4 separate regions of the Homo sapiens genome follow, and all the other regions are linked to region 2. The links come from fine-mapping of genetic effects on gene expression. A gene starts in region 2. Each other region holds a variant in brackets. All regions are shown on one strand. Distances are from middle to middle. Region 1 has its middle 24 kb from the start of LIRIL2R. Region 2 holds the start of LIRIL2R (lincRNA regulator of IL2RA). Region 3 has its middle 21 kb from the start of LINC03066. Region 4 has its middle 32 kb from the start of LIRIL2R.

Evidence for each region.
Region 1: its variant is fine-mapped to the expression of LIRIL2R in whole blood (TOPMed, PIP above 0.99).
Region 3: its variant is fine-mapped to the expression of LIRIL2R in prefrontal cortex (GTEx, PIP above 0.99).
Region 4: its variant is fine-mapped to the expression of LIRIL2R in prefrontal cortex (GTEx, PIP above 0.99). The same link has a PIP of 0.9 or more in hypothalamus and putamen.

The regions. Positions count from the first base shown.
Region 1 is chr6:152,855-160,513 of GRCh38, forward strand. No RefSeq gene overlaps it. Among named protein-coding and RNA genes, the nearest start is that of LIRIL2R, 24 kb to the right of the region's middle. RefSeq lists enhancers at 3,289-3,378, 3,419-3,508. The variant T/C (reference allele first, on the strand shown) is at 3,149.
Region 2 is chr6:176,524-184,182 of GRCh38, forward strand. It overlaps LIRIL2R (lincRNA regulator of IL2RA), which reads left to right and starts at 3,872. Exons shown (of 2, transcript XR_926349.3): 1 at 3,872-7,659. LINC03066 (long intergenic non-protein coding RNA 3066) reads right to left here. Exons shown (of 8, transcript NR_126020.1): 7 at 5,843-5,951; 8 at 4,943-5,172.
Region 3 is chr6:222,900-230,558 of GRCh38, forward strand. No RefSeq gene overlaps it. Among named protein-coding and RNA genes, the nearest start is that of LINC03066, 21 kb to the left of the region's middle. RefSeq lists enhancers at 2,536-2,695, 2,756-2,805, 4,101-4,160, 4,721-4,850, 4,861-4,980 and 1 more. The variant T/C (reference allele first, on the strand shown) is at 3,147.
Region 4 is chr6:144,798-152,456 of GRCh38, forward strand. It overlaps the pseudogene SEPTIN14P6 and the pseudogene CICP18. Among named protein-coding and RNA genes, the nearest start is that of LIRIL2R, 32 kb to the right of the region's middle. The variant C/CA (reference allele first, on the strand shown) is at 3,711.

The DNA of each region.
Region 1 (7,659 bases), 24 kb before region 2:
AAACAAATTATTCATGCACAAGGTCCTCTCACTGTTCCTGGAATGCAGTGGAAAGAGAACAGATTAGTTTTTCCTCCTTCAGAACACAACCACTAGAAACATCCTACCTCAGATGAGATATTCCCTAATTATTTTCAAAAGACAGTGAAAAACGATGGATGTAAATGTTTGCTACAAAATAAATACATGGTAGAAACAGAAGCATCTGGGTCACAGCTATATTAGAGCTACCTGTGTTCCCCTGTCACTGAGATTAAAACAAAAATGTCCAATACAATCATTCACAGCATGGGAGAGGGGAAGTTGAAGGGTTAGGAAACGCCAGTCATAAAAGGATTTCAGAATTTCAGTCCATAAGGAAGTGGTTTTGTGCATTGTCTGTTCTTGTGTGCAAGGTGAAGTCTGGAGAACAGAAACGTGCAGTAACAAGGGCTCCTTTGTCCATATCACCTCTCTAGATATCAAGTTTCAGACATGTTGCATTTTAATTGAAAGGTTGATATAATTTTTTGAAAAAGAAAACTTGTGGTGTTTGAAGTGACAAAGACTGCTGTGACAAAAAAGCAGGGAAAGGGAATTTTTTTTAAAAAAGCAAACAACAACAACAAAAACCCACAAAAAAGCAAACAGCAAACAAACAAAAAACAGGGGAAGAAGTCGAAACACCCTGGGTTGTGACTACTTCCAGGAAGGGGCTACAAGAGGCAGTTGGAAATTCTATTTGCTTTGCAACTGTGAGTTTTCCAGCCTGCTCCCTTTCTAAAGTATATTACTCTGCTTTTGGTTCATGAAGTTATCCATTTCTGTTTTCTGGAACAGCTATGTATTTTCTTTATCTATCATCTATCTATCTATTTACCATCTATCTTTTCTACCTTTCGCTATCAAGAGCTTGGGTCAAGCAGGATAGAATTCCAGTGTATGTTCACTCTACCATTTAAAACAAGAGCTCTTGTAGGCATTCTCCATCACATCATAAACCTGAGCTTTCTAAAACAGGGTGTGGCAAACTACCATGCATGGGCCAGGTCTGACACAGTCTGCGTTTGTAAGTAAAGTTGTAATGGGACACAGCCACATACATGTGTTATACAATGTCTCTGGCTACTTTCATGGTATAATGGAAGAGCTGAGTCATTGAGAGAGGGACAACATGGCTTGGAAAACTTGAAATATTTAACATTTAGCCCTTTGCAGAAAATATTTGCTGACTCTTGTTTTAGAAGATCTCTCTTTAGAATGCTACCTATTGCCTTCTGGATAGAATCACAACTCTTTACCACAATCAACACACAGCCCTGCTTTTATTATTTCCACTCCTCCTCCTTATTTTCCTTCTGACAATGCCGATGGATTGTCAGCTTCCCAGATGTGCAAGAATCTCTCCTCCCTTCCCGACATTCTCATGCTCTCCCTCTGCCTCTCAAGAACTTCCTGTCCCATCTCTCATGACAAATCTCTTCTTCATTCTTTAAGATGCAGCCCCTTTGCTCCTTCCTTAAGGATGTCTGTCTGGCTTTATTTTGGGTGACATGCTCCTTCTGCATCTCCCAGAGCCAGCCTCTGTGTGTCAGCTACAGCATTTCTTTGCATCTCTGTGTCATATATCATCAAATCTGCCTAAGCTTGAGTGAGTCACTGCATGACAACTTCAGACTCCACCAGCATTGTCTGCACTAACAACGAGGCTTAGAGATTTGTCCAGTATGCTCGGGGTTGTGGGGTGGTAGCAGTAACCAGCTGGTGAGCATCATCTCTTACATCAGAATGAAATCTGTAGATCTCTGCCATTCATAAGTATTTGGAGCTTAAAATTAGCATAAAGATTTTCCTTAAGAACAAATGGCTTGAGTAGGCTTTTGGAACGTAGGATATTTCTGCTCGTTCATTTCAGCGTTCAGTATTCCCACATGAATCTAAACACGGCTCTGCTCTTAGTAACTGTGCGACCCTGGGAAAGTCACTCAATCTCCCTCAGCTAAATTTTGTTGTGTGAGTAATGAGAAGAGAGTTGTGGTTTGTATTTAGTGAGTAATAACAAGCAAAAGGCATTTAGCTTTCTGGAACCTGGTATGTAGTAGATCCTCATGAAATACTAGCTCTGTTGATAAAACTAGACTGAAAGAAGCTTTCAAAGTCAACAACAGTATCATGTAGTGACGGACGTAGATGAGAAGCTGCTGCTGCAGCTTGCAGCTCCTGGAGGCCAGTTTTGTCCATGACTTAGCAGGAATGCACTACCTTTCCATGAGGAGACACTGCCCAAAGAAACCAAGGCCATTCTTTGAGGACAAATATGTTTTAATAGCTTTTATATTATGTAATAGTGTAATACAAATACTAATTTATTAATCATAATGTGAAATTATTTACATTGTTATGTTAAGACTTTTGTACAGAAATTTACACCTAGATATTCTGAAGTTGGTGGTCTGTGAGTGGCATCGAGTGATGACTGACACATTCTGACCTGGGGTAGAACAACACGTGTCCCTGCAGTTTGCTGAATTTCAGGGCATCACCACCTTTTTTCAAGAGTGTGTTTTCCTATCCTCTAGAGTTTTGCCCACTTAAGCAATGGCTTTGCTGTAATAAAGAATTACACTATTTATCAAAATATTACTTTGGAGAATACTGGTTCACATAGTTCACTTTCAAGTTTTCTTAAACTATCAGGCCCATAGCTAATGCCAGTGGCTCCAAGGATGAGAAGGTAAAAAGGTCTTTTTTTTTTTTTTTTTTTTTTTTGGCCAAGACAAAAAAACTCCACATTTCAAACTTTACTGTCTCATGCTAGTCCCTGGAAAATTAGAAGTGAACACACTCCCCTCCCAGCCCAATCACAGCTAATGAATAACCAAGATCTCCTGCAGGTGCCTTTGCCTTGGGTTTGTGAGCCTGGAGTTGCTGGTTGGCACTGGGCAGCAGGCAGCAGAGCTGGTCCCATTTCTCCATGCTTTTCCAACTCTGTAGGGGACACAGGCACATTGAACAAACTAGGTCCTGGCCTGGCACTGGCTGGGAAGCTATTTGATGTCAGGCTCAATGTGGACTTCTGAGTTGAAAAGAGAGTATGGGTCACCCAGCCCCACTTACTCATTTTACCAAGAATGAAAATGGGGATCTATTTCAGACATGAGATTACACA[T/C]TGTAAGACTGTGCAAGCTTGCCACACTTGTATCCGCTCAGCACACACTTTCTGAGTGCCGAGTGTCTCCAGCAGGAGAGGGGCTCTAGTTCCCGGGATCCCACCCTCCACAGAGGACAGCAGCACCTTGAGGGACAGATGTGCAAAGGGCAAGGTGGGGGCCCTTCTGCTGGAGAGGCAGCTGGGGAGGTCCTTAGAGGAAGTGACACCTGAGCTCTTCTCTGAAGGGTGAAGCTGAATTACTTGAAGCTTAGGGTGAAGGGGTGTCCAGGGAAGTGGAGCCTGTGAGCCGAAAGCAAAATGACTTGTCCAGAGAAGTGTAACAAGTTCCATATTGTTTCAGTGCCAAATCTGCACAGGAGTCACCAAACGAAAGAGCAGGATCCTGGAGCCAGGGCATGGGATTTCACCCGCTGGCAATGGGACTGTTCACTGGGAATTCTGGGGGGCAAAACCTGAAAATGTTTCCTCTTAGCTCCAATTCTCTGTCTCTCTGTCTCTCTGTCTCTTTCTGTCCTTCTCTCTTTCCCTTATCTTTAATTTTTTATTATCCTAAGAAAACACAGATGTCTCAGATGTGGGGATTAGCAGCCTGCCTCTTTCTGGATGACTCAGGGGAGCACTTTGGCCTCTGTGAGCTTATTTACAATAATTCACAAATCTTGCCAAAAAGAAAAGTCATGGTAGCAGAGGTTAGAAAACCTCCTAGTATTTCTTCTGATGCTTTGAATTTATGATTAATATGTTTAATCTTCATCTTCTGAAAAGTCACCAGTTGCACAGTGAGGACCATAAAGGTAGTCTGTTTCTGTGGTTTGTGGCTTCAACAGTCAGCGGTTTTGCAGCAATAGCATTGCATGTGGGTTTTAGGCTGATGATGCTCAACAGTGGACAATCCTCTTCACCTGCCTGGGCCCCACTGCCTGCCCTTCCATACAGTGCAGGGTCACAGCTGAGCTCTCTGAGACACCTCGCAGGATCTCGGCTTCTGAACTATCAAGTGTCTTCCAGGTGAAGGCTTGGTCTCATAGCCTTTGTGGCTTCCTCCAGGTAACACTTGGTCTTCTGACCTAACCCTGGTATGTGTGTGACACACATGTGAATGTGCTCCCTGTGGCAGCGCTGAGGAAGGACTCAGTCATCACAGATGCTGAAAGGCAAATGCAGTGTGCTTTTTTCCAACATCTCCAGTCTTGCATTATTTTTACCCATCAGCCCATTTGAAAAAGAAAAAAAAAAAAGTCCCCTGTTAGAATTAAATCCCCTCTGGAGATAATGGGTATTTTTTAAATCTTTCACTTTTTTTAGTCACATTTGCTCCCAGTGCCTGCCAGGATCCACTAGAGGGCAGAGACACCCGTGTATATTTGTGTGGCACTTGCTGAGTGGTAATAAAAACAGATACCCTGCCCTCCCAGAGCCAACCTCCAGTGCCAGGGCCAGTGGCAGCAAGTAAGAAAACCTCGGTTTCTGTATCTGCATCAGCTACACGGTGCTCGCACACAGGAGGCATCAACCAGTTTTCTCAGTTAAAGAGACAGAAACAAAATGTGTCTTCACTACTTTTTGAATTTACCATGTTATCTAATGTTTTAACTTAATTGACTGAATAAACTCCCTATGCATCTGGACACATGCATGGAAAATTCACAAACATTTCAAATGAAAATAGAGTATTATGACAAAAGAGAATTTCTTTTGATATGTGAATTTCACTTTTTTCTATCTTTTAGTGATTTTAATGTAATGAAATTGAGAAGTCTGTGCTTCTAAAAGCCTTAAGAGCAAGGTATTTCTCCATTTTGAAAAAAAAAATTTGGCAAAATATCTTCTACTATAGATAGAAGTTAATTGGCTGAGGGTAATAAACAGAAGATTAAAAAACAAGCTTTATCCCCTGCTATTCTGTCAAGGGCTACAGTGAATTACACACTCTGGCATGGGTTTGCACGCCACGTGCTGGAAGCCAGCAGTCATGCAGGCCATGCTCTCCCACACTTAGGAAAACAGCGCATGAGAAAGATCTCCATCAAGTTCACACAGAATGACCTCCAGCAAGACCTGGAAAATGCTCAGTTCCACAAAATACCTGTGTCCAAATCCTTTCAGTGCACAGCTCTGGCATCAGGTTCCTGTGAGGACAGACCCTGAGATGGATTTCTGGATGGAGGCTGCTGCCGGAGGAGACAATGTCACTGCAGATGGCTCATGCTGCTCCCACGCTGCAGGGGTCAGTGACTTGGGACTCCTGCACGCCGTCCCACTGGGGAACCGTGGAGATTCACCCCAGCTGGGTGGACTCTGCTGTGTCCCCCGTCAAGAAGCTCCACGGCTTACCTTGGTTTTTCCTTTTTAAAACTGTCTGGTGTTTTCCTGTCCAGTGGGGGCTGCATCTCACCTTAGAAGAAAACATTTTCCAACTAGGAGCTGTCTTGGTAGCTGGTCCAGAGGAAGGTCTCCTCTCTCGGGAGTGAGGTCCAGCCAAGTAACTCCAGCCAGAGCTCTCACTGAGTGGGTCTGGATCTGCCCTGTCCTCCTCCCATCCTCATGCTGACTATGGAAATCCATCTGTGCCCTATGCAAAGTCCTGCATCTTGGACTGTAAAATGGCAAAAGCCAAATTTAAAATAGATGATTATATTGACCCTATGAGGAAAAGAAAGTTCTGAGGTAGACAATTGGTAAGCAAGCAATTATGTGTAACTTGCTAGAACACTAGGGTGTTTTTTATTTGTCTGATTATTTTCTGTTTAACAGGCTGGCTAAGAGCCAGAGGGAGAGAAAGCTGGCTGGGAACTGAGAGGCATGAGGTCACCTCAGTCCCAACATTTCCATGTAAACGATGATGCGAGGTGGGCTGGTGGCAAGATCAGAGCAGAACTGAAGGTGATAGAGACACAAAAAACCCTTCAAAAAAAAATCAATGAATGCAGGAGCTGGTTTTTTGAAAAGATCAACAAAATAGACTGATAGCCAGACTAATAAAGAAGAAAAGAGAGAAGAATCAAATAGATGCAATAAAAAAGGATATAGGCGATATCACCACTGATCCCACAGAAATACAAACTATCATCAGAGAATACTATAAACACATGTATGCAAATAAACTAGAAAATCTAGAAGAAACAGATAAATTACTGGACACATACACCCTCCCAAGTCTAAACCAGGAGGAAGTCAAATCCCTGAATAAACCAATAACAAGTTGTGAAATTGAGGCTACAATTAATAGCCTACCAACCAAAAAAAGTCCAGGACCAGATGGATTCACAGCCAAATTCTACCAGAGGTACAAAGAGGAGCTGGTACCACTCCTTCTGAAACTATTCCAAAAAATAGAAAAAGAGGGAATCCTCCCTAACTCATTTTATGAGGCCAGCATCATCCTGATACCAAAACCTGGCAGAGACACAACAAAGAAATAAAATTTCAGGCCAATATCTCTGATGAACATCGATGCAAAAATCCTCAACAAAATACTGGCAAACTGAGTCCAGCAGCACATCAGAAAGCTTATCCACCATGATCAAGTCAGCTTCATCCCTGGGATGCAAGGCTGGTTCAACATATGCAAATCAATAAATGTAATCCATCACATAAACAGAACCAAAGACAAAAACCACATGATTTTCTCAATAGATGCAGAAAAGGCCTTCGACAAAATTCAACAGCCCTTCATGCTGAAACCTCTCAATAAACTAGGTATTGATGGAATGTATCTCAAAATAACAAGAGCTATTTATGACAAACTCATAGCCAATATCATACTGAATGGGCAAAAACTGGAAGCATTCCCTTTGAAAACCAGCACAAGACAAGGATGCCCTCTCTTACCACTCCTATTCAACATAGTATTGGAAGTTCTGGCCAGGGCAATGAGGCAAGAGAAAGAAATAAATTGAATTCGAATATGGAAAGAGGAAGTCAAATTGTCTCTGCTTGCAGAGGACATGATTGTATATTTAGAAAACCTCATTGTCTCAGCTGGGCACGGTGGCTCATGCCTGTAATCCCAGCACTTTGGGAGGCCGAGGCGGGTGGATCACAAGGTCAGGAGTTGGAGACCATCTTGGCTAACACGGTGAAACCCCATCTCTACTAAAAATACAAAAAATTAGCTGGTCGCGGTGGCGGGAGCCTGTGGTGCCAGCTACTCCGGAGACTGAGGCAGGAGAATGGCATGAACCCAGGAGGCAGAGCTTGCAGTGAGCCGAGATCGCGCCACTGCACTCCAGCCTGGGTGACAGAGTGAGACTCCGTCTCAAAAAAAAAAAAAAAAAGAAAAGAAAACCCCATCGTCTCCGTCTAAAATCTCCTTAAGCTAATAAGCAACATCAGCAAAGTCTCAGGATAGAAACTCAAGGTGCAAAAATCACAAGCATTCCTATACACCAATAACAGACAAGCAGAGAGCCAAATCATGAGTGAACTCCCATTCACGGTTGCTACAAAGAGAACAACATACCTAGGAATACAATTTACAAGGGATGTGTAGGACCTCTTCAAGGAGA
Region 2 (7,659 bases):
CTCAAATAAATAAATGTGTATATCTCACTATTCATTATTATATGGCATTTTCCTGGACATTTTGTATACACATGTGTACTTAACAATGGAAGAAAAATATTCCAAATATAGTAGAAAAAAATTTTGTTCAGAGGTTTCCAACACATTTTATTTTGCAGATCACAGATTTAAAGCTTTTGAGGACCAACATCTCTATCAATTCCTATAAAATGTCCCATCAATTTCAGTTTCATAGCAGGCTCTTCTGTACTGCACACCATGCTTATAGTTGGAGGTCTGGTCACACATGCATAAAGGTTGCCCGCCCGTTGGTTCCTGGAGGTGGTCACGTCCAAGAAGCTTCATCTTCCCAGGGGAGGGTTCCTTTGGCAAGAAGTGGATAAGTTTACACATATAGCTTTGGTGCCTGTGAGCAGGAAGTGTCAGAAACTTTCAGGATATGCTGCTGTTTCTCTTATGAAGTCAGGGTCCTGAGGATCCAGTGCCCTTGTACTTAATGAGAACAATTCCTCCTCATTGTTTAGTGGGTTAAAATATAAGGAAGTCGGCCGGGCACAGTGGCTCACACCTGTAATCTCAGCACTTTGGGTAGCCAAGGCAGGCAGATCACAAGGTCGGGAGTTCGAGACCAGCCTGGCCAATATGGTGAAACCCCATCTCTACTAAAAATACAAAAATTAGCCAGGCATGATGGCGTGCACCTGTAGTCCCATCTACTCAGGAGGCTGAGGCAGGAGAATCACTGGAACCTGGGAGGCAGAGGTTGCAGTGAGCCAAGATCGGGCCACTGCACTCCAGCCTGGGCGACAGAGCAAGACTTCGTCTCAAAAAAAAAAAAAAAAAAAAAGGAAGCCTCGTTTTTAAGTAACACAGATAACACCTTTTTAACTCACCTATTTATTCTAGAACTACAATTTTTTGTCCTTTTTTTTTTGTTTTGAAAAAGAGTCTCACTCTGTCACCTATAATGGAGTGCAGTGGTTGCAGCTCGGCCCACCACAACTTTCGCCTCCCAGGCTCAAGTGATTCTCCTGCCTCAGCCTCCCAAGTAGCTGGGATTACAGGCACCCACCACCACGCCCGGCTAATTTTTGTATTTTTAGTAGAGACAAGGTTTCACCATGTTGGCCAGGCTGGTCTCGAACTCCTGGCCTCAAGTGATCCACCCGTCTCAGCCTCCCCAAGTGCTGGGATTGCAGGCGTGAGCCACATCACCCAGCCATATAAGAGCAATTTTAAAAATTAAATTAAACCCACCAGGAGGAACAAAAACTCCAGACGCGCACCACCTTTAAGAGCTGTCACTGCGAGGGTCTGTGGCTTCATTCCTGAAGTCAGCGAGACCACGAAACCACCAGGAGGAACAAACAACTCCAGACACTCCACCTTTAAGAGCTGTAACACTCACTGCGAAGGTCTGCGGCTTCACTCCTGAAGTCAGCAAGACCATAAACCCACTGGAAGGAAGAGACTCTGGACACATCTGAACATCTGAAGGAATAAACTCTGGACACACCATCTTTAAGAACTGTAACACTCACCGCAAGGGTCAATAGCTTCATTCTTGAAGTCAGCGAGACCAAGAACGCACCAAAAGGAACCAATTCCGGACACACTAGGAGTGGGGTGCTGGTGGGGCAGGGCACGGGTAGAAGTGAGGTGTGGGTAGGATCAGGGTATGCGTAATATTGAGGTGCTGTTGGAGTGGGCCGTGGGTAGCATGGGGTGCTGGCAGGGCTGGGCGTGGGTAGGAGCGAGGTTTGGGTAGTGGCTGGTGCTGCAGTGGTGAGCCATGGATAGGAGCGGGGTGCGAGTAGGGGCGGGGCTCAGGTGGAGTAGGGTGACTGCTGGGCCAGGCATGTGTAGGATGGGGTGCTGGCAGGGCAGGGCACTGAAAGGAGCAGAGTGTGGGTAAGATTGGGGTTCTAGTGGGGCAAGCATGGGTAGGATAGGGTGCTGCAGGGCGGATAGCAGCCGGGTGCTGCTGGGACAAGCACAGGTAGGAGAAAGGTCCAGGTAGGAGCTAGGTGCTGTGAGGTCGAAAGCAGGTAGTGTGTCCGGAATTGGTTCTTTTTGGTGGGTTCTTGGTCTCGCAGACTTCAAGAATGAAGCCGCAGACCCTCGCGGTTAGTGTTACTGTTCTTAAAGATGGTGTGTCTGGAGTTTGTTCCGTCAGATGTTCAGATGTGTCCAGAGTCTTTTCCTTCTGGTGGGTTCGTGATCTTGCTGACTTCACAGGAGTAAAGCTGCAGACCTTCGCAGTGAGTGTTAACAGCTCTATCAAGGTGGGGCGTCCAGAGTTGTTTGTTCCTCCTGGTGGGTTCATGGTCTGGCTGACTTCAGAATAGAAGCCGCAGACCTTCGCAGTGAGTGTTACAGTTCTTCAAGGTGGTGCGGACCCAAAAAGTGAGCAGCAGCAAGATTCACTGTGAAGAGTGAAAGAACAAAGCCTCTGCAGCATCGAGGGGTACCCAAGCAGGTTGCCACTGCTGGCTCGCATGGCCAGCTTTTCCCTTATTTGGCCCTGCCCATGTCCTGCTGATTGGTCCATTTTACAGAGAGCTGATTGGTGCGTTTTTACAGAGTGCTGATTGGTGCATTTACAAACCTTTAGCTAGACACAGAGCACTGATTGGTGCATTTTTACAGAGTGCTGATTGGTGCACTTACAAACCTTTAGCTAGACACAGAGTGCTGATTGGTGCGTTTTTACAGTCTGCTGATTGGTGCATTTACAAACATTTGGCTAGAGGGAAAAGTTCTCCAAGTCCCCACCCAACCCAGAAGCCCAGCCGGGCTTCACCTCTCAGTAGGAGCGGGGTGCAGGTAGGATCAGGGTGCTGGAGGGGCATGGGAGGGTAGGACAGAGTGCGGTAGTGAGAGGTGACAGAGTGCTGGCAGCCCTCACTCGCTCTCGGTGCCTCCTCGGCCTCGGCGCCCATTCTGGCTGTGCTTGAGCAGCCCGTCAGCCCAGCGCTGCACCGTGGGAGCCCTTCTCTGGGCTGGCCGAGGCAGGAGCCGGCTCCCTCAGCTTGCGGGGAGGTGTGGAGGGAGAGGCAGGGGCAGGAACTGGGGCTGCGCATGGCACTTGTGATCTAGCTAGAGTTCCGGGTGGGCGTGGGCTTGGCGGGTGGGCGTGGGCTTGGTGGGCCCCACACTCAGAGCTGGCTGGCCGGCCCCACCAGCCCCAGACAGTGAGGGGCTTAGCACCCGGGCCAGCAGCTGTGGAGGGTGCTCTGGCTCCCCGAGCAGTGCCGGCCCACCGGTGCTGCGCTCAATTTCTCACTGGGCCTTAGCTGCCTCCCCACGGGGCAGGGCTCGGGACCTGCAGCCCACCATGCCTGAGCCTCCCCCCAGCCGCCGTGGGTTTCTGAGCAGCCTGAGCCTGCCCAAGGGGTGCCGCCCCCTGCTCCACAGCACACAGTCCTATCGATGCTTAAGGGCTGAGGAGTGCTGGTGCGTGGTGTGGGTGTGCAGTGTGGGACTGGCGGGCAACTCTGCCCACGGCCCCAGCGCAGGATCCACTAGGCAAAGCCAGCTGGGCTCCTGAGTCTGGTGGGGACTTGGAGAACTTTTATGTCTAGCTACAGGATTATAACACCAATCAGCACTCTGTGTCTAGCTAAAGGTTTGTAAACGCACCAATCAGTGCTCTGTGTCTAATCTAGTGGGGACTTGGAGAACTTTTGTGTCTAGCTAAAGGATTGTAAATGCACCAATCAGCACTCTGTGTCTAGCTCAAGATTCCTAAATGCACCAATCAGCACCCTGTCAAAACGGACCAATCAGCTCTCTGTAAAATGGGCCAATCAGCAGGATGTGGGTGGGGTCAGATAAGGGAATAAAAGCGGGCTGCGGAGGCAACCGTGGTAAGCTGTGCTTGCATCATGTTTGGAAACTGTCGTACTGCGCGAAGCTTTGCAGCTTCCCTCCTTAAAGGCAGTGAGATGGCAAACCCACTGGGAGGAATGAGAAACTCCAGGCGCACCACCTTAAGAGCTCGTGACACTCACTACAAAGGTCTGCAGCCACTCCTGAAGCAAGCGAGACCACAAACCCACCAGCAGAAAGAAACTGAACACGTCCAAACATCTGAAGGAACTAGCTCCAGACACACCATCTTTAAAAACTGTCACACTCACTGTGAAGGTCTGCGGCTTTATTCTTTTAGTCAGTGAGACCAATTCCAGACACAAGACCATCTCATCTCAAGAGACCAGGACGTCCGGGCACCCCTAGAATGTAGCTGCTGGCAGAGCCTGAAGTCTATCCAGCTCATGCTCTTCCCTGATATCCTTGACAGATTGTGGGATGGTTCAGCCTCTGCAAGGACATGGCCAATGATGGGGGGCTGGTTTTGGGGGCAGCACTCTAGGCAAGGGAAGAAATAAAGTGTCTGGGAACTGGCGTGGTGAAGGGGCACTTTGTGGAGAAGATGTGTTCACATTTGGATGTGTCGAGGGTGGAATGATATGAGGAAAGTCAAAGGGTGCCCACCCCCAGAGCCTAGGTGTGGGCACAGCACTGCACCACGCCTTAGGGGAGATTGGACTCTGGGCAGAGATCCCAAGAGAAGCAGGAGTTGGAGTCTTGGGGGCCAGTGTGATAGGGAACTAACTTTACTTTAAAGCCAATTTGTCAGTAAGAAAAAACGAGGTGCACCTTGTAGGAGAAAAAGTCACAAGCTTGGTGTGCTTGAAGTCACAAGCCTTGCTGTGCTTGGTGAGAGGGATCCCGAGTGTACTTGAGGCACTCTCCTGTTTAAAAGGGGAACGGTGGTTTTCTTTTCTCAGTGTAGGTTAGTGTAAAAAATCTGCTTTGTAATTGCATAAGGTCTCAGCACAAACAAAATCACAGAAAATGTGAAATGTATTATAACAGTCAACTTGCTTAGAATGTAGTTGAACCTGCATGCAGTATTGAGACACCAGACAACTGTTTTCAGTCTCCACATTTCTTTCATTTCCTTTATGAAAGTTACATTAAGAAAAAAAATAACTCCCTTGAGTATTCTGATATTTTCGGTGAGTGAAACAGTAATCTCAGCAAAGTTCAATCTTGGTATCAGACAGAATTTCAGGTTGTTTCATCTAATTGCCACTTAATACCAAAGACATGATGTTTATTAGCATGTATTTCTAATGAGAAACTATTATAGTCGTCCTCAATTGTCTGAAATATGAAGCGGAAAAAGAAAATTATGAGCCCCAGATACCAGACCAGTTGCTGATCAGATAGAATATCGTGGTTCCAGCATATTATGAAATAAAAATTCAAAGACTGAATACCATGCAAAAGGTCAATATTCGGCAGCATCTGAGAAGTCATACATCTAGATAGACCTAAACTATAAGTGCAGAAGTGCTACAGTAAACTATATGGGCTTTCTACTAAGTACTGGCTAATTTTAAAACATACTGAAATTTATGTACATTAGTCTTTGTTATAAGAATTGAGAATCCGCATTGTATTATAAAGTTGATCTACAACAGTCACTTTATTATAAAATATTTTCGGCCTGGCGCGTTGGCTCACACCTGTAATCCCAGCACTTTGTGAGGCCGAGGCAGGCAGATCACCTGAGGTTGGGAGTTCAAGACCAGCCTGACCAACATGGAGAAAACCCCATCTCTACTAAAAATACAAAATTAGCCGGGCGTGGAGGCAGGTGCCTGTAATCCCAGCTACTCCGGAGGCTGAGGCAAGAGAATCGCTTGAACCTGGGAGGCGGAGGTTGCAGTGAGCCAAGATCTCACCATTGCACTCCAGCCTGGGCAACAAGAGTGAAACTCCATCTCAAAAAAAAAAAAAAAAAAAAATTCACCAGAAGGAAAGTGCTTACCTATTTGAACAACTCTGTACGGGTCTATACAGTATTCCAAGGCTCTTCAATAAGCACATGGTGATGACCCAGGTCAGTCGTGGCAAGGTTGGGGAATTAGAACAAACCTCTGTGGCAAACACAGATTATAGCTTGAAGTGAGCATCACGGATTTCTACAACAAACACTCTGACAAATATTTCCTGTGATAAACATCCACGTTCTCGAGGTGGGACAATTAACCCAAACTTTCCAAATTACATAAAAACTTTTGCTCTATCTAATTAAGCTGATAAATTCATTATTTTAAATGACAACATACAAAAGAAGTATAGATTTTTACTTAAAACGTATTGGATATGTGGGTATTCTCTTGTCTTTCTAAGCAAATGCTAATATCAGTTCAGTGCTTAACAATGTCAGCAGCAACTGGGCCCTCTAAGTCTCCTGCTACTGAAGTTTGAGGGATCAAGCCTCACCGTAATTTTGACAAAGACTAAATTCAAGATGTCTGAGGCTTACAATTTTCTTATTCTACTTAATGAGGTAGAGAAGTTCATTTGGAATTGAGCACTCCATTAGACTGTTTCAGCTAAATTTCAGGTGGCATTTTCTAACAATAAGAGCTGTTGATGCTTTGGAAGGCAACAGGTTTGCTTCACTGGAAGTGATGATGGCCTTCCAGAAAGGGTGAGGCAAGGTTTTCTAAGATCTCATCCAACTAAATGATTCAGAAAGCGCCAGCCTGGGGATTCCAGGTGCTTGTGACTCGGGGATCTTTCTGCCATCCCACCTCACCTGTTAGTCACCTTTTGAAATTGGGTATGATTGAAATGGAGTTTAGGGAATGCTGTAATAATATATCTCTTGCTTGCCTAATTCACAGAAACGTGCACAGGCAAACTGTGATGCTAAGTGGGGGCTTTGATCCTTTGATGCCGGGCCCTCCTCCCACCCGGAGCCATACCTATTTCTCCCTTGCCCGTTCTCCTGCCTCTGCGTTCAGATGTGCTTCAGGCCTGAGACAGGAGGAACCTATCAATGAAGGAGGAAATGTTCCCCAGCTCCTCAAACACGAGGCCTCCTTCTGCAACTCAACTTTCTGCTCCCAGGACAGGATAATCTGAAGACCCCACCGCTTCACCTCATCTGAAGACTCAGTTAAAGAGGAGCGGGCAGGCAGCTGGGGGATTCATTCTCTGGGAGTGGGAGCAGAAGGGAGCCCCTTGTCTTGTTTTTGTTCCTTCCCAGTTGACCCACAGCTGGAGTGCGGGCTGGGCAAGTAGGTGCTGGGCAACTTCTGGGGAGACTCAGGCCTCCTTATTGGCCATCACAAAGCCCCAGAGAAAAAGATGCTTCCAAAAACTGCAAGATAAGAGGAACAGGTAAAGGTCATGGGAGGATTAAGTAGAGCACAGCAGGCTGCTTCACGAACCCTCTGTGGCCTTCCCCAGGTGGGCCAGCATGGCAGCTGCTAACATTGAGTCTAGGCCATCAGGCAAGGTGAATTAGGGACAGTACCAGTGGGGAAAGTACCTCGGTGTAGCCCATGCACTGTCTGCCACCCACCCATGAAGTTCAACCTCTTCTAGTGCTCTTTTCTGTTTTCATGGTCCTGGAGTGACTTGACCTCATTTAGTCATTCTATGATTATCCCATTTACAGGCAAGGAGCATTTTTATTGTTGTTAATGCTCTTAACTCTAGCAAGCTATGAATTTAGGACGTGTCTGTGCCCTTTGGCAAACTTACTGTCTCCTTAGGAATTTTGTGCCCGATTTCTTTTGCTCTTCCAGACTGCTGCCCATGCTCCTCTGCCCTGCCGAGCACTCTGGGAGA
Region 3 (7,659 bases), 46 kb after region 2:
TTTATCTTGTACCTTTTCTTATAAATTTTGGGATATAATTTATTTTTGGTAAAAAAAAAACTTCAGAAAGTGGTTTAGTTGAAAGCACCTTAGGCTTTCTTATTAAGAATTAAGCTGCCCATGCTATTCATACTTGTAGTTTAATTCCTCACTTATTGTTGTAATTGCAATTGGATTTTGCAACAACAGCAACAAAAGCCTCCCTGGCAAGTTCCTGGTGATTCTGGGGAAGAGGGCTTGAGCCTGAGCTGCTCTAACCTCTCCTTCAGTCCTCAGCTCCCTGCGGTCTCTCTATAGAGATATGAGACACCCCATTCCCAGTACAAGCCACTTTTCCAGCTTCACACACACGCCCTCTTGGATATGCTCCCTGTGACGGGCAACCGTTCTACTGGAAGTAATTCTGAAAAAAGCCTCTGAACCCATGAGGCCCACGTGGGGCTTACCTGGCATTCAACTGTGTTCTCCTACATGTCACCATGTCCTGTCTCCACGACTCATGTTTGATCCTCGCGGGGGCATCAGAGCTTCCTCAGCACCTAGCAAGGCCATCTGTATATGCAGTGGTGATCCCCATTTCAATGTAAATTACGACCACTCTCCACCACTGCTACCCAGGATGTTTCCCAGACTCCTTAGGTGTGTGAGGTGCAGAATCAACCAACTGGAAAGAAACACTCTTAGCCACTTTAATACTCCTCCTCCCTCTTTCTAAATTTCCTAAACCAGTTGAAAATGGGCACCTTTTCTGAGAAGCACAAGCTGTCTCTTGCCCCTTTTACAAATGTCAGTCATGTGTTGCTTAAGGACAAGGATACCTTCTGAGAAATGGGTCCTCAGGCAATTTGCTGTTGTGTGAGCATCGCAGAGTGAACTTCCACACACCCGCGTGCTATGAGCTGCTTTACACCTGGCGATATGAGACAGCCTGTCGTGCCAGGCTGAGACCTGCATGTCACTGCGCTGAGTGCTGTCGGCAATTATGACACAGTGGCGTGTGTGTATCTAAACAGAGAAAAGGTGCCGTGAAAGAACAATACGAAAGATGAACAACAGTACCTGTGCAAGGCACTTACCATGAGTGGAGCTTGCAGGACTGGCAGCTGCTCTTGTGAGTCAGTGGGTGAGTCGGGAGTGAATGTGAAGACCTAGGACATCACTATGACTACTGCAGACTTTATAAACACTGCACACGTAGGCCACACTCTCTCTCTCTACATATAAAGTATATATATGTGTGTGTGTATATATATATAATTGTGCTAAGACGTTGAGGTGGCTACAATGTCATCACATGATAGGAATTTTTCAGCTCCCTTATACTCTTACAGGACAACCATAGTATACGCTGTCTGTGGTTGGAAATGTTGTTGTGTGGCACATGACCGTATGGAAGAACAGAGAAGACCATTCAGAGCTTCATCGGAGGCAGTGGTGACCGCAGGACCCCTGCATCTGCTTCAGCCCAACCAGACATCCCTGACCCTGCCCAGCAGACCCTGACCTCCGCCACAGATAACCTGGGAGCCTGTGGGCACGGTCAGCAGGGGGCGTGGAGTCTGAGGCACATGACTCTCATGCGCCAGCCCAGTGGTGCCCGCACCTCATTCTTAGAATTTCCTGGAAGTGGCTTTGCTCTGAATGCCTGCGCTGGCATCACAGAAACAAAAGTTTCTTCCCTGGAAGGGATGGGAGCAGCAGGGGCTGGTGGAGGAGCTGCCACTGTTTTGGTCACAGAACCACGCGTTCTCCAGGTGAAAGGTAAAGCTTCAACTCTGCACAGTAATCCAGGGAAGCATCTTCTTCAACGGGACGCGAGCCGCTTTCTCCTGTCGCTGTGGGTTTCATTTGTGGCGACGTCTCTGCAACATCCATTTTTCCCTGAGTTTCTTTCTGGCCGTAGCATGCACCTTCGGGGGCTACGAAGTTCTGATGCTCAGGTACTACAGGAGATCCATTGAACTGAATCTCTGGAAGTGGGGCCCAGGCCTCTCCTTTTCAGAAGCTCAGTGTGTGCTTCTGATGTACAGCCAGAGTTTAGAGCCATCAGGCTCACCCAGTCACGGTGATACCAACTCTCCAACCAGTGACTGTTCTTGGAACATGCAGATCACTCTATTCTAGACGTGAGGCATGAGGAGAAGCCTGCAGGAAGCTTCTGGAAAGGAGTTCATCACTCCTAAGGGGAAGATAGTACCTCTCTGTCTTGTCCAGATGTGACACCTGGCAGAGCTGCCTGGAAGACACCAGTGCCCCAGGCGCCAGGTGTGTAGAGTCACAACCCTGCGTGCCGTGTCTGGAGTCTGCCCTGGCTCTGGGCTTCCTGTGGTAGGTGATGACACAATGCCTCACTCCCTAACCCTGCTTGAGGCTTGGGTGTGAGTTATTTGTAGAGAAAAACATTCTTACTCATTCCTGGGCCTGTTCCTTCTGTACCTATAGGGAAAGAGCGGAGGAACCAGGTTCCCGGTCCAGGCCCCACTTCCTGTTACGCCCTTTAGCTGATTTCCTCTGTTCCTCGCCAGATTCTAGAAGGTTTGCGAACTCTGCTCATGCAAAGTCTGGCTGCGGGGGCAGTGGAGTTGCTGGAAATCAGACTCGAATGCCACACTGCTTCAGGAAACCGAGGTGCTTTCCTCCGTGTACAGCCAGTGTGCTCCTTAGGTCTCTGCATCAGCCTGTGAGGGGGATGAGATCACCGTCCTGTTTCAGAAGAGGAAGGCGAGGCCCGGAGAGGGCGCAGGGTGCCCTGTGGCTGTGGCCACCCGGGAAGGGGCTGTGACGCCCTCGTGGTGCAGGGATGAGGGACGCTGCCTGCCTTTGCTGTCGAGCAGAGGTCTCACCCCTGCTTTGTGAGTTTCTGAGTTTCTGAGTGACCTCAGCAAAGCAGCTCAGCCTTTGAGCTCAGCTTTCTCATAGGAAAACGGGGTTGAAAAATCTTCCCCACATTTATTATGCAAAAGCAACCGACGGAGGAGCGCCTGCTGATGCTCAGCAAAATGCCGTCTGTGTGCTGCTCATCATTCCACGCCTTCACCCTGAACGCCCAGCTTCTTATCAGAGTCTAGGGGCAGCAGAGAGTGATTGAATACGCACGTGTGTCCACACTGCAGCCACGGCAAGGCCGAGAGAGGGGCTCCCCACCA[T/C]GCTGGCGGCCTGGGGCCTGGACAGAGCCAACTGGGGAAAGTGCCTCGCAACAGACCAACCTGGTGAGGGAGGCGGGGGGAGCACATGGCGCAACCCACCCTCCTACCATCCACATTGCAAAGCCCCAGCGATTCCTGGGCGTCACTTTTCCACCCCCACCCACCCTGTGTCTCTGTGGCTTCGGGCGCGAGCTTGTGGGGCAGAGCCAACAGACAGAGCTGGGGACACCTGGGGCCGCTTCACAGCGAGATGCCAGACTCAGGCCTTTACCAAGCTGCGCGTCACTGGTAGAAAAGGACATTAGGAACACTAGGTAAAAAGCAAAACAAAAATAAATCTCACTTGGCATCTTTCCCATTATAGTTCAGTCGATGGTAGCTATGATTCTATTTGCCTGTGTTACTATTTACTCTGAAAGAGTGGATTTAGGCCAGAACATTTGCAGTCTGGCTGTGTAAGGCACCACAACAGTATCAATGAGCCGCCGCACTCAGGATGATTTAGCTCTCCCCATTTTCTCAGATCTCATCACCCCCAATCCTCAGCTCCCTTGTGACCAAAGGTTAGCATTCTTCACAGAGTAGTTAGTCTGTGGACTGGGGGTGAAGCGAAGCCCCTCCATTTCCTGGGTCTGGAGACCCAGGGCCTCCGAAGCTCTGGCCTGGGCCATGCAGACTTTTCATGGAAGGTGAGGGCAGGGACTTCTGACACTGAGGCCCTGAGTTGGGGCCAAAAGTTTTAGGTGAAGGGCACCATCCCCAGCAAGAATGCTCTCACTTCAGATGCCAGCTGCAAACTCCAGGGTCCCCAGGCCACCTGCACTTCTGACCAAGTCAGGGGTTCCCCTGACCCCTTCAGAGTCAATAATTCACCAGAATGACTCTCAGAACTCCGGAAAGTGCTACATGTATGATGACAGTGTTATTACAAAGGACACAGCTCAGGACCAGCCAAAGGAAGAGACAGCAGGACACAGTCCAGGAGGGCCTGGAAGGCAGAGCTTCCATGTGCTCAAGACCGGTCACCCTCCCACTACATCCATGCGTTCACCACCTGGAAGCTCCACCAAGCTTTGGGGCCAGAGCTTCCACTTGGGTTTCATGACATACTCGTGATTGATTGAATCACTGGCCTGATGGTTGAACTTCATCTCCAGCCACCTCCCTTCCCTAGAGGTCAGGCTCAGAGCCCTGATCCTCTGGTGACACGTGGGTCTTTCCTGTAAGACCGTCACCCGTCCTGAAACCACGCAGGCCCCCACCGTGAGTGACCTGTTAGCATAAATTATCAGGGCCCACCATGAATAGCAGAGACACTCCCATCACTTGGGAAATTGTAAGGCTTTAGAGAGCCTCTCCCAGAAGATGGAGACAAAGGCCAGCATGAGTCCTCATCACACAGGAGGAGTGTGGGTGTCGTGAGTGTGAGCGGTCTTGCTCACACAGGCACATGCCTCTGTTCTCTAGAGACAAAAACCACAGCTCCTTAGCATTTCATGCGAAGCCTGCCATCCACTGGCCTCATCCCTCGTTGCCTAACGTGGGGCTTTTTCTGCAAGGCCGGTGCTCGCTGTCCTCCTCAGGGAAATTCTCACCAGCTCCCTGGAGCATGGCTGTCATTCGATCTTTGGTGTAAACAGCATTCGACAGGCTTCTGTAATCATAATTATCATGACATAATTGTAACTTTTCTTCTCAATACAGTCCTTTTCTCCATTCGATTAAAGTGATATTTTGCTTACAAGTAACAAAAACCTGGCTTAAAGCACAAGGACATTTCTAGTTTACTTAAGTCCAGAGATAGCTGGTCCCAAGGTATTTCGGCCACTCAGGCCACTGAGAACCAGGTTATTTCTGTTCTGTCATCCCTAGAGAGTTGGGCTGTCTACCGAGCAGTCACTGTTTAACATGGACATAGGCGGCAGCTGCCTGGGAAAGCACCATGTGTTTTCACAACGGGGTTCCAGGTTCGCAAGAGAAGGACTTTCTGCTCTTGCACCTCTCTCCCTTATGGGGGGGAAATATTTCTGGGCAGCCCCAGCAGACATCCTACTGGATGACAGGGTCTCTCCTGGCATTCTCCCCTGGCAAGGGGAGTGTGTGGGTGCCTCTGTTTGGGCCATTCCTCAGAGCGACTGTATTGTTCCCTGAACATAATCAGGCTGCCCCGCAGGATGGTGGTGGGAATGGCTGGTGAGCCTTTGACACTGCGAGGTTGTAGAATGTGTTCTAAAACAACAGAGAGGCATCAGAGCACGAGGAGGGAGGGAGGGAAGGAAGAAACAGGCAATGGTGGGAATGAGGAGCAAAGGAAACAAGAAAGAAAGATTTAAATCAGGCAGGAACACCAGGTCCTAGCGTGTAGGTACTTTTTAAGATGGAATGTACTTTACAACTAAACCCTATGTCAGATTCATGTTCATTTATCATGACTTCATTATATGCTGTAGTAGCTTAGTAGTTTTCAAAACTTTTTGTTTTTTTGAGACAGGGTCTTGCTCTGGAGTGCAGTGGCACAATCTTGGCTCACTGCAACCTCCGCCTCCTGGGTTCAAGCAATTCTCCTGTCTCAGCCTCCTGAGTAGCTGGGACTACAGGCGCCCACCACCACGCCTGGCTAATTTTTGCATTTTGAGTAGAGATGGGGTTTCACTACATTGGTCAGGCTGGTCTCCAACTCCTGACCTCAGGTGATCCACTCTCCTCGGCCTCCCAAAGTGCTGGGATTACAAGCGTGAGCCACCGCGACTGGCAGTTTTCAATCTTTTTGAAGCAAGCAAATTTTATATTAAAAAAAAAAAAACATTGGTTTTTTGGTGTGTGTGTGTGTGTGTTTTTTTTTTATCATTTGATAGGTCAATATAAAACAAAGGCAATCCATTTTCCACCCAGAAGTGACTTATACCACATGCTTTGTCTAAGCCTTCATTTGCTCTTGGGAAAAATGTTCCTCATCTTTCTAGAATGAAGAGAAGTACTTTCTTTGGAGATTGACAGGGGCCAGAACAAAGTTAAATAATGTACTCCTGGAAATGCAATTTTGTCAAAGGAGTAACTTCTCTCAGTCCTCAACGCGTGCAGTCATTACACAAGTGCTCGGCAGAGTCAGGGAGTCTCAGCATCGTTCTAGAAAGCCCAGATTGACCGCCTTCCTTCCACTATGCCTGGGCTGGCGGGAGGGCAGGACTAAGTGGCGGGATTGCACCCCTCCCCGCAATGTCTAAAAGTGGAGCCGGGCTCAGCCAGGCAGTGGGTGGGGGTGTGTGGGTCTCAGCCAGTTTCAATGGTTTTGACAATGAAACTCACCTGGGTGTGTGTTATTTGGCTTTGTTCTTCAGATTTAGACCCTCTCCTAAGTCAAATTGAAACTCCCCGAACTGGTATCCTATAAGAGCTGACCCTTATAGTAATGTGTGCTTCGAATCATGTGAACTGAAACCTGTGGACTTCCCACAGCCCAGCAGGACCCACCTTCCCAAGCAGCAAACCCTGGAGCCTCGAGCTGACACGTCAGTCCTTGTGCTTCGTGCACATTTAGAAGGAACTTCAGACAAACTTCATTCACTTCAAACTCTGTCCCCTTGGAGCCTCGAGCTGACATGTCAGTCCTTGTGCTTCGTGTAGATTTAGAAGGAACTTCAGACAAACTTCATTCACTTCAAACTCTGTCCCCTTGGAGCCTCAAGCTGACACGTCAGTCTTTGTGCTTCGTGCAGATTTAGAAGGAAATCCAGACAAACTTCATTCACTTCAAACCCTGTCCCCTTAACCTATTTCCAGTATCCAGAGGTAAAGCAAATCCTTCAATGTGATGCCCAAATAAAACTATAAATATACATATGTAATATATACAAATACAGAAAAATATATACATACATATGTGCACACATGTCTATATGTTTGCATGTATGTATATGATATTGAATCACGCTTTTTCATTTAATAACATGACTTGCAGAACCTTCCACCTGCATATTTAGTTCATATCACTTTATTCTATTTAATAGCTGCAAAACCTCGATCCAGTCTCTTCTATTTGTTGATACGAGGGCTCAGCCCCCCACCCACCCCTCATTTTTTTGGCCTTGTTAATGATGCAATTAATGTTGATAGATAGATAGATAGATAGATAGACAGACAGACAGACAGACAGACAGATAGATAGATAGAGATATGTAGAAAGATATCTATGTATCTCTATGTATCTATTTTTATATGTACTTAAAAACAAATATCTGTAGAGTGAGTTGCCTGAAAAAGGATAAGTGTATTTTCACAGGAATTACCTATTGCCCGCCAAAATTGTTGTCCAACTCAGCCTCTCACCAGTGGTGCAGGAGACTGGTAAACCTCACCAATGCTGGGTTTTATTAAGCTTCATTTATTGCCAATGCTATGTAAATAGCCAGTTATACAGCACTAGTATTTTGCTTTCCATTTCCTTAATCAGGAGTGTAACTGAGAAATCTGTCTCATGTTTGATGGTCAAGAACTGGCTTTTGAGAGTCTCTAT
Region 4 (7,659 bases), 32 kb before region 2:
CTGGACTGGGGCAGGTGCCAACTGAAGCTGCTGGGTCAGCATGGGCAGGATGTTCTGCACACAAACCTTGGAGAAGAAGATGTGTGCATAGCGGGTCCACTGCTGCTGCCCCTGCCCTGACTCCCAGCCCTGCCTGACCCCACCTCAACCTGCTCAGGCTCTGGCACAAACCTGGCTGCCCTGCCACTGCCTCTGCCCCAGAGTTGGGGCCTTGACAGCCTGGTTGGAAGGGGACACCCCAGCCCTGCCTCAACACCTGGGGGTCTCCATAACTACCACAGGCAGGTGGGCAACCCCAAAGATCCCAGGACTCACAGTACCCCCTGAGAACATGGACAGTATGTGGGGGTAGCAATGGAGGGCAGGATGGTTATCTTCTCCCAGGTGAAGCCATTTAATCCTTTCAGTTTGGGACGGAGTAAGGCCTTCCTCTTTTTTTTTTTTTTTTTTTTTTTGAGACCGAGTCTTGCTCTGTCGCCCAGGCTGGAGTGCAGTGGTGCGATCTTGGCTCACTGCAACCTCTTCCCGCCGGGTTCACGCCATTCTCCTGCCTCAGCCTTCCGGGTAGCTAGGATTACAGGTAGACGCTACCACGTCCGGCTAATTTTTGTATTTTTAGTACAGACGGGGCTTCATCATCTTGGCCAGGCTGATTTCGATCTCCTGACGTCGTGATCTGCCTGCCTCCCCCTCCCAAAGTGCTGGGATTACAGGCGTGAGCCACCACGCCTGGCCAAGGCCTGCTCCTCTTATCTATACCCCCTAACCCTGCAGCTGTGCCGGGGGAAAGCTGGGCAATTTCCCTCCTCCGAGCCCCTGTACATACCATGAATTGTGGGACCTTCAGAGCTTTTCACTTTTCGGAAAATAGCTCCTGCTGGGGCTACAAGATGGAGTGTGAAGAGGGCCTTGGGCCACAGGGAGGCGCCTGTGGACTAGGGGGAGTTCATGCACCCCTTCTTTCCCCAGAGGGGCTGGACTCAGGTGAGTATGGGGGTGGGGGCTCCTGCACTTCGACACAGGCAGCGGGAGGGTTTTCTCCCCATTCCCTCTGCACTCCCAACTTGAGCTATACTTTTTAAGAAAGTGATTCACCCTGCCTTTGCCCCCTTCCCCAGAACAGAACACGTTGATCATGGGCGATATTTTTCATTGTGCCAAAAAGTTGCCATGACCGTCATTAAACCTGTTTAACACCAAATAATAAGGAAAATAAAATAAAAAATTCGGGCATGGGCAGAAACTCACTCCAAATAAATTACCTACCAAAATATATAATGGTGGAAATATTCCAAAATTCAATATTTTGGGATTTATACACAAAAGATAAACAAATTAGAGGCCAAGAGGCTGCCGGAAGGGAAAAACGGGGCCTGGAATGGCCGACGTGAGGAATGAGCTGGGCCTAAAGAGGCCACTGGCAGGCAGGAGCTGGACCTGCCGAAGTGGCCGAAAGGCAGGAGCTTTGGACTGGGGAGGCCTCAGTGAGGCGAGAGCTAGCTGGGCGTGGAGAGTCCGCTGTGAGGCCAAGGCCGAGGCCAGGCCCGTGCAGGCCTTCGAGAGGCAGGAGGCCGGGCCTGCAAAGGCCGACTGGAGATCAAGTTCTGCGCCTGAAGAGGCTGCCAAAAGTCAAAAGCGGGGCCTGGGAAGGCCGCCGAGAGCCATGAGCTGGGCTGGGCCGAAAGAGGCCACTGGGAGGCAGGAGGAGCTGGGCCCGGAGAGGCTGCCAAAAGGCAGGAGCTTCGCCTGAGGATGCCACAGTGAGACACCATCTGGGTCTGGAGGGTCCACTGTGAGGCAGAGGCTGGCCTGTAGAGTCCGACAGTAGACAGAAGTTGGGCAAAAGGCTGATTTGAGGAAGTTTTGGGCTTCAACAGTCAGCCACGAGGCAGACACTAGGCCTGGAAATAGCCCGACAGTCATGAGTTGGGCCTAAATGGGCCACTATGAGGGAGGAGCTGTGCCTGTTGAGGCTCCTCCAAAAGGTCATCTGTACACACACAGTAAAAATCTGGGAGTAACTGAAGACAGAGTTGGTAAGTAAAATAAGAAACAGTTATAAGAAATTAAACTATGGTATCCATAGGCACCCGGTAAAAGGTCAGTTGATGTTAGCTGCTACTTTTTTGTTGTTTAGAGACAGGGTCTCACTCTGTCACCCAGGCTGGAGTGCAGAGGCCTGATCATGACTCACTGCAGTCTCAGCCTCCCTGGGCTCAAGTGATCCTCCCACCTCAGCCTCCCAAGTAGCTGGGACTACAGGAACATGCCACCACACTAGGCTAATTCATGTATTTTTCTATAGGGATGGTGACTCCCTTTGTTTCCAAGGCCTATCGCAAACTCTTGGCCTCAAGCCATCCTCCTGCCTCAGCCTCCCAAAGTGTTGCGATTACCAGTGTGAGCCACCACACCTGGCCAGCTGCTACTTTTATCAATATTATTATTATTCCACTCAATTAAAAATTATTATTTTCAAGGCTATGCAACAGTATGTATCCTACAGCGTAATTGTAAAAACATATACAGTCGTCATCCCTCAGTATACAGAATTAGTTCCAGCCCCCCATCTCTGCATATACCAAAATCCATGCTTACTCACGTTTCGCTGTCACCCCTCTAGAATCCACGTATACGAAAATTCCAAATGTTAGTTGGGCATAGTGGCAAGCACCTGTAGTCTCAGCCACGTAGGAGATTGAGATGGGAGGATCGCTTCAGCCTGGAAGGTTGAGGCTGCAGTCAGCTGTGATAGCACTACCACACTCCAGCCTTGGACAAAAGAGGGAGACCCTGTCTCAGAAAAAAAACAAAATAAAACAGGTTAGAAATTGTAATCTAACCCTAAGCCTAACCCTAACCCTAACCACTAAGCCTAACCCCTAACCCCTACACTAACCCTAACGGTAACCCCTAACCCTAACCCCTAACTCCAAACCCTAACCCTAACCCCAAAACCTAACCCTAACCCTAACCCCAAACCCAACCCCAACCCGAACCCCGAACCTGAACCCTAACCCTAACCCCTAACCCTAACTCCTAACCCTAACCCCTAACCCTAACCCTAACCAATAACCCTAACCCTAACCCTAACCCTAACCCTAACCCTAAACCCTAACCCTAACCCTAACCCTAACCCCTAATCCTAACCCTAACCCTACCCTAACCCCTAACCCTAACCCTAACCCTGATTATTCAGGGCTGCAAACAGAAAGGATTTTGTTCACCGTCGATGCTGCCCTGAGTTGTCCCAAAGCGAGGCCGTGCCCCCAAGGTGTGTGCTGAGAAAGCTGCTCCGCGTTTTTGGTGTCCCCCGGGTCTGTGTTAAGCAGAACGCAGCTCTGCCCCCGCAAAGGCACCCCGCGCCGGCGCGGGCACGCACAGACTGACGCGACGTGCGCGCGGGAGGCGCGGTGGATGCGCAGAGAGCACGCCGCCGGGCGGGGGTTGGGGTGGCGTGGTGCAGGAGCACAGTCGCACGCCCCTGTGCTGGGGGTGGGGCGCGGTGCAGGCGCGGAGACGGGTGGAACCTCAGTAATTCGAAAAGCCGGGCTCGACCGCCCCCTGCTTGCAGCTGGGCACTACAGGACCCGCTTGGTCACGGTGCTGTGCCAGTGCGCCCCCTGCTGGCGACTAGGGCAGCTGCAGGGCTCTGTTGCTTATAGTGGTGGCCAGCGCCCCCTGCTGGCGCCGGGGCAATGCAGGGCCCT[C/CA]TTGCTCACAGTATAGCGGCTGCACGCCGCCTGGTGGCAGCTAGGGACATTGCAGGGTCCTCTTGCTCACAGTGTGGTGGCAGCACACCCCCCTGCTGGCAGCTGGGGACACTGCCGGGCCCTCTTGCTTGCAGTGCAGTGGGGGCACGCCCTCTTCTGGCCCCTGGGGGCACTACAGGAACCTCTCGCTCACAGTGTAGTGGCAGCACGCCCCCTGTTGGCAACCAGGGCACTGCGGGGTCCTCTTGCTCATGGTGTGGTGCCCGTATGACACCTGCTGGCAGCTAAGGACACTGCAGGGCCCTGTTGCTCACAGTGTAGTCGTCGTACGCCACCTGCTGGCAGCTGGAGACACTGCCTGGCCCTCTTGGTGGCAGTGTCGAGGCAGCACGCCACCTGCAGGCAGATGGGGACTAGGCAGGGCTCTCTTGCTCCCAGTGTGACGGTTGGCGTCCCCTACTGGCTGCCTCCTGCACCACTTAAAGTCAGAGCATCAGTTTTTAAGCCCCATCAGTTCTGTAAATTCAACTGAAACGGAGCTAGTACTAGGGAGAGCTGATGTCCCAGTTCTTGTCTAACTTGGAAGAAAGATTTTCACCAAGAGGCAGTACAAAAATGGGAGACAACTTCATTGAAAAGAAATACAGTGTAAAGAGCTCATTGTAGAAAAATAGGGAGGAGTGGGCTGATCGTGCATGAAAACATCCTAGGAGTCCTGTGCAGGGAATTTTATTTTGGACTTCTTCACATTCCTGCCTCTGTCTCAAGTCTCCACCTGTTCTCTTTGTCTGGTTTTCCTGCTACTGCCTTAGGTCCCCGACTTGCCACACTTAGGCTTGTGGGACCTCCTCACTGTTGGTTGAGGTACATGTGTGGTGATCAATCCGAATCCACTCTGGCACCAGCCTCCTTCCCGCCATCCCAGGCAGGCTGACAGCGGTCACGTTTGTACCCAGTGTGCCTGCCTATCTCTTTTGAATGTCCTTCTTTGCCCTAATCTGCACTTAGGGTGCCAGGTTTCTCTTAAGAATGTCCCCTTTGTCCTTCTTATCAGCATGTAGCTACCAATATTCTGACATTTTTATTGCAGAGTGAATGATGGTTGGGGCATCTTAAAGAGAGTTCTAGGGTTTTTCTTTCTGCATAGGTACCTCTTCGCACTCCTACCCACAACTGACAAGTGCCCATCCACTCCAGCACTAGAGATGCTACTAATATGTGCATTTTTGGTGGTCCCTCCAGGTGAGCCTTCTCAGACTTTCCCTTTTCCAGGAGCTCCCCCTCCTGTTCATGTCTAGCTATCTATCTCCTCTAACAGAGCCCACTATCCTGTGTGTTTCCCAAAAATAGTGATGGAAGGATTAATTGGAAACCATAGGAAATGATATGCATGTAGATGAAAACTTTACAACTTACACAAATAATCACTCAAAATCATCCTTACACTAAAAATGCAAAACTATACCATTTCTAGAAGAATCTATAGAAGAAAAGCTATGTGCCTTTGGGTTTGGTAATGAATTTTAACAAATGACACAAAAGGTTGATATACACAGAAGAAATGACAATGTGGATTTCTTAATATTTAAAGTTTATACTCTGGAGAAGACCTTGTTAAGATAACAAAAAGACAAGCCACATATTGAAGAAAATATTTGCAAAATACAGATCTGAGAATTTGTATTCAAAATATATTTAAAAATTCTTAAAACTAAACAATAAGTTAAACAGCCCAATTAAAAAGGCACACAGATCTCAACAGACATCTTACCAAGGAAGATCTACAGATGGCAGGTAAACATACAAAAACATGCTCAACATGCTAGAGAACTGAAAACCACAATGAGATAGCACAGCTGGTCTGCATCTCTTAGAACTGCTAAACTCTTTAAAAAATGACAAATTGCTGGAGGAAAAACAAGAACTCTTTTCATTGCCGGTGGAACACAGTGTATAAGACCAAAATATGCCACCCCAAAATATAATGGTAGGAAACCAGAATATGCCACCCCAAAATATGTCCCTTTTGCTTAAGAATTATTCCAAGCTGATTATTTTGAAAAAAAAAAATGCTAACAAAGGAAGTTCTGAAAACAGAGTAGAAGTTACCCTTGTGTAAGGGAAATTTACATCTATAAAGGAAATCCCCATTCAAAAGCTACCTCTCTCAACACCAAGAAGAGAAGGATAACTAAATCACTAAAGAGTCTTATCAATGGAGACTGCATGGACTTAAGTCTGTATAACAAACCTTACCCTTGTCTACTGTGCTTTTGCTGGCTAACTCCCCACTACTGCACCTCAAATCTTCTTTCTTTAAGTTCAACATAGTATTTATGCTTGAATTGAAAGCCACCTGTTGGAGATTTACTCATTTTGCCCTGAGTATCTCCCATGTATCCATAAGGTATACATGTTTTTAAACTTTTCTGTTTTTCTCATTTTAATCTGTCAGTTTTTACAGAGGGTCCCATCTCAGAATTCCAAAAACATAGAAAATTATTTTTCCTCCCCTATTACAAGTTGGGCACTTTTTTCCAAAGCTAAACAAGTTTCACCTTACAATCCAAAAATCACATTCCTAAGTATTTTGACAACTACTTTGATGCTATTTCCAAACAAAAGCTACCATGCAATTATTTACAGAAGCCTTATTCATAATGAACAAAGGAAAAAAAAGGAATCAGAAAGTCTTACAATAGATGACTGTGTGGGAATCCACTCAGACATCAAAAGTTGTTATAAAGATTATTTAAATGAAAGCATTTGAGATACTGAAGATAAAGGAAGAAATCTTAGCAGAACTTACTTTATCCAGTTAAAGCAGAGCTCCCAGAAAAATACAGCTGCCATTAACCCCATCCAAGGAGTTTCTTGCAAATTCAGCTGCCATGAAGACAGCGTACTCTTTCCCATTAGCAATGATAAATGAAAATGAAATCCTAAGCTCCCAACTGACTGAACAGACCCACTCTTGGCTGAGGGGACCCAAGAGTAAATTTCAAAACTGAGTTCTCAGCTTTGCTAGCATTTGAGATTGTGATGGTTGAATAAACTAATTAAGAGCCCAAAATGAAGGCTTGGAATAAATAACTGAGGGTGTCTAATATCCCAGTTTTTCATCCTAGAATGGGCAGAGTCCTTGACCCCATTCTAGGGAGACTTCCAAAAGAAAAAAGACCTGCATTTCTTCAACAACCCACATTGAGAGACTTTCTTGCACTTTTGACCTGTGGCTAACACTCCTCACCTTTCATTCTGTCATCAGTGTTTTGGGGAAACACCTTTAACTCTCTATGATTCACAGGTTATTAAGTGGTCCTTATAATTCCCTCCAGAGATGCAAAAGACTAATGATGGTGTCTGAGCTCACAGCAGCAAGCAGGCGTGTGTGCACAGCAGCCACGTGGCTCATCTGCTAGGAGCTTACTAAATACGATGTTCTACAACATTGTTTAACGCAAGGGGAGACGCTCCTACTCAGAGGGTTTAATTGCTCACCTACTTCTTTTTCTGCCTTCTTGGGCTCCTAAAATGAAAAAAAACCCTGGAGTGATAAAGTGAATCAAAGGGGTACCAGCTGCATCACAGCAAAATAGATTCCTAAAAAATCCCTGGCCTAAGATGACAGCCTTGGCTGGATAAGCTTGAATGTGCTGATAGTGGACATGGTAGAATGAAGGTGGTTGAAATGTTCATATTAAAGAACTTCCACCCAGATTGCAAGAAAAGAGAGAGGAATGGAGATGGCAGCACAAGCCCCTACAATAAAAGCAGATGTTTTGAGATCAGTTATATTTGTCCTGAAAAAAATAAAAACAGAAACCAAAGTTTAGCCTGAGGCTACAATTAATTGGGCAATAAGCCAGAGGCATATATGGCATAGACAGACTTAAACATTTCTCCCTTGTATTAATACAAATACTAAAATTACAAATAAACTGATTCC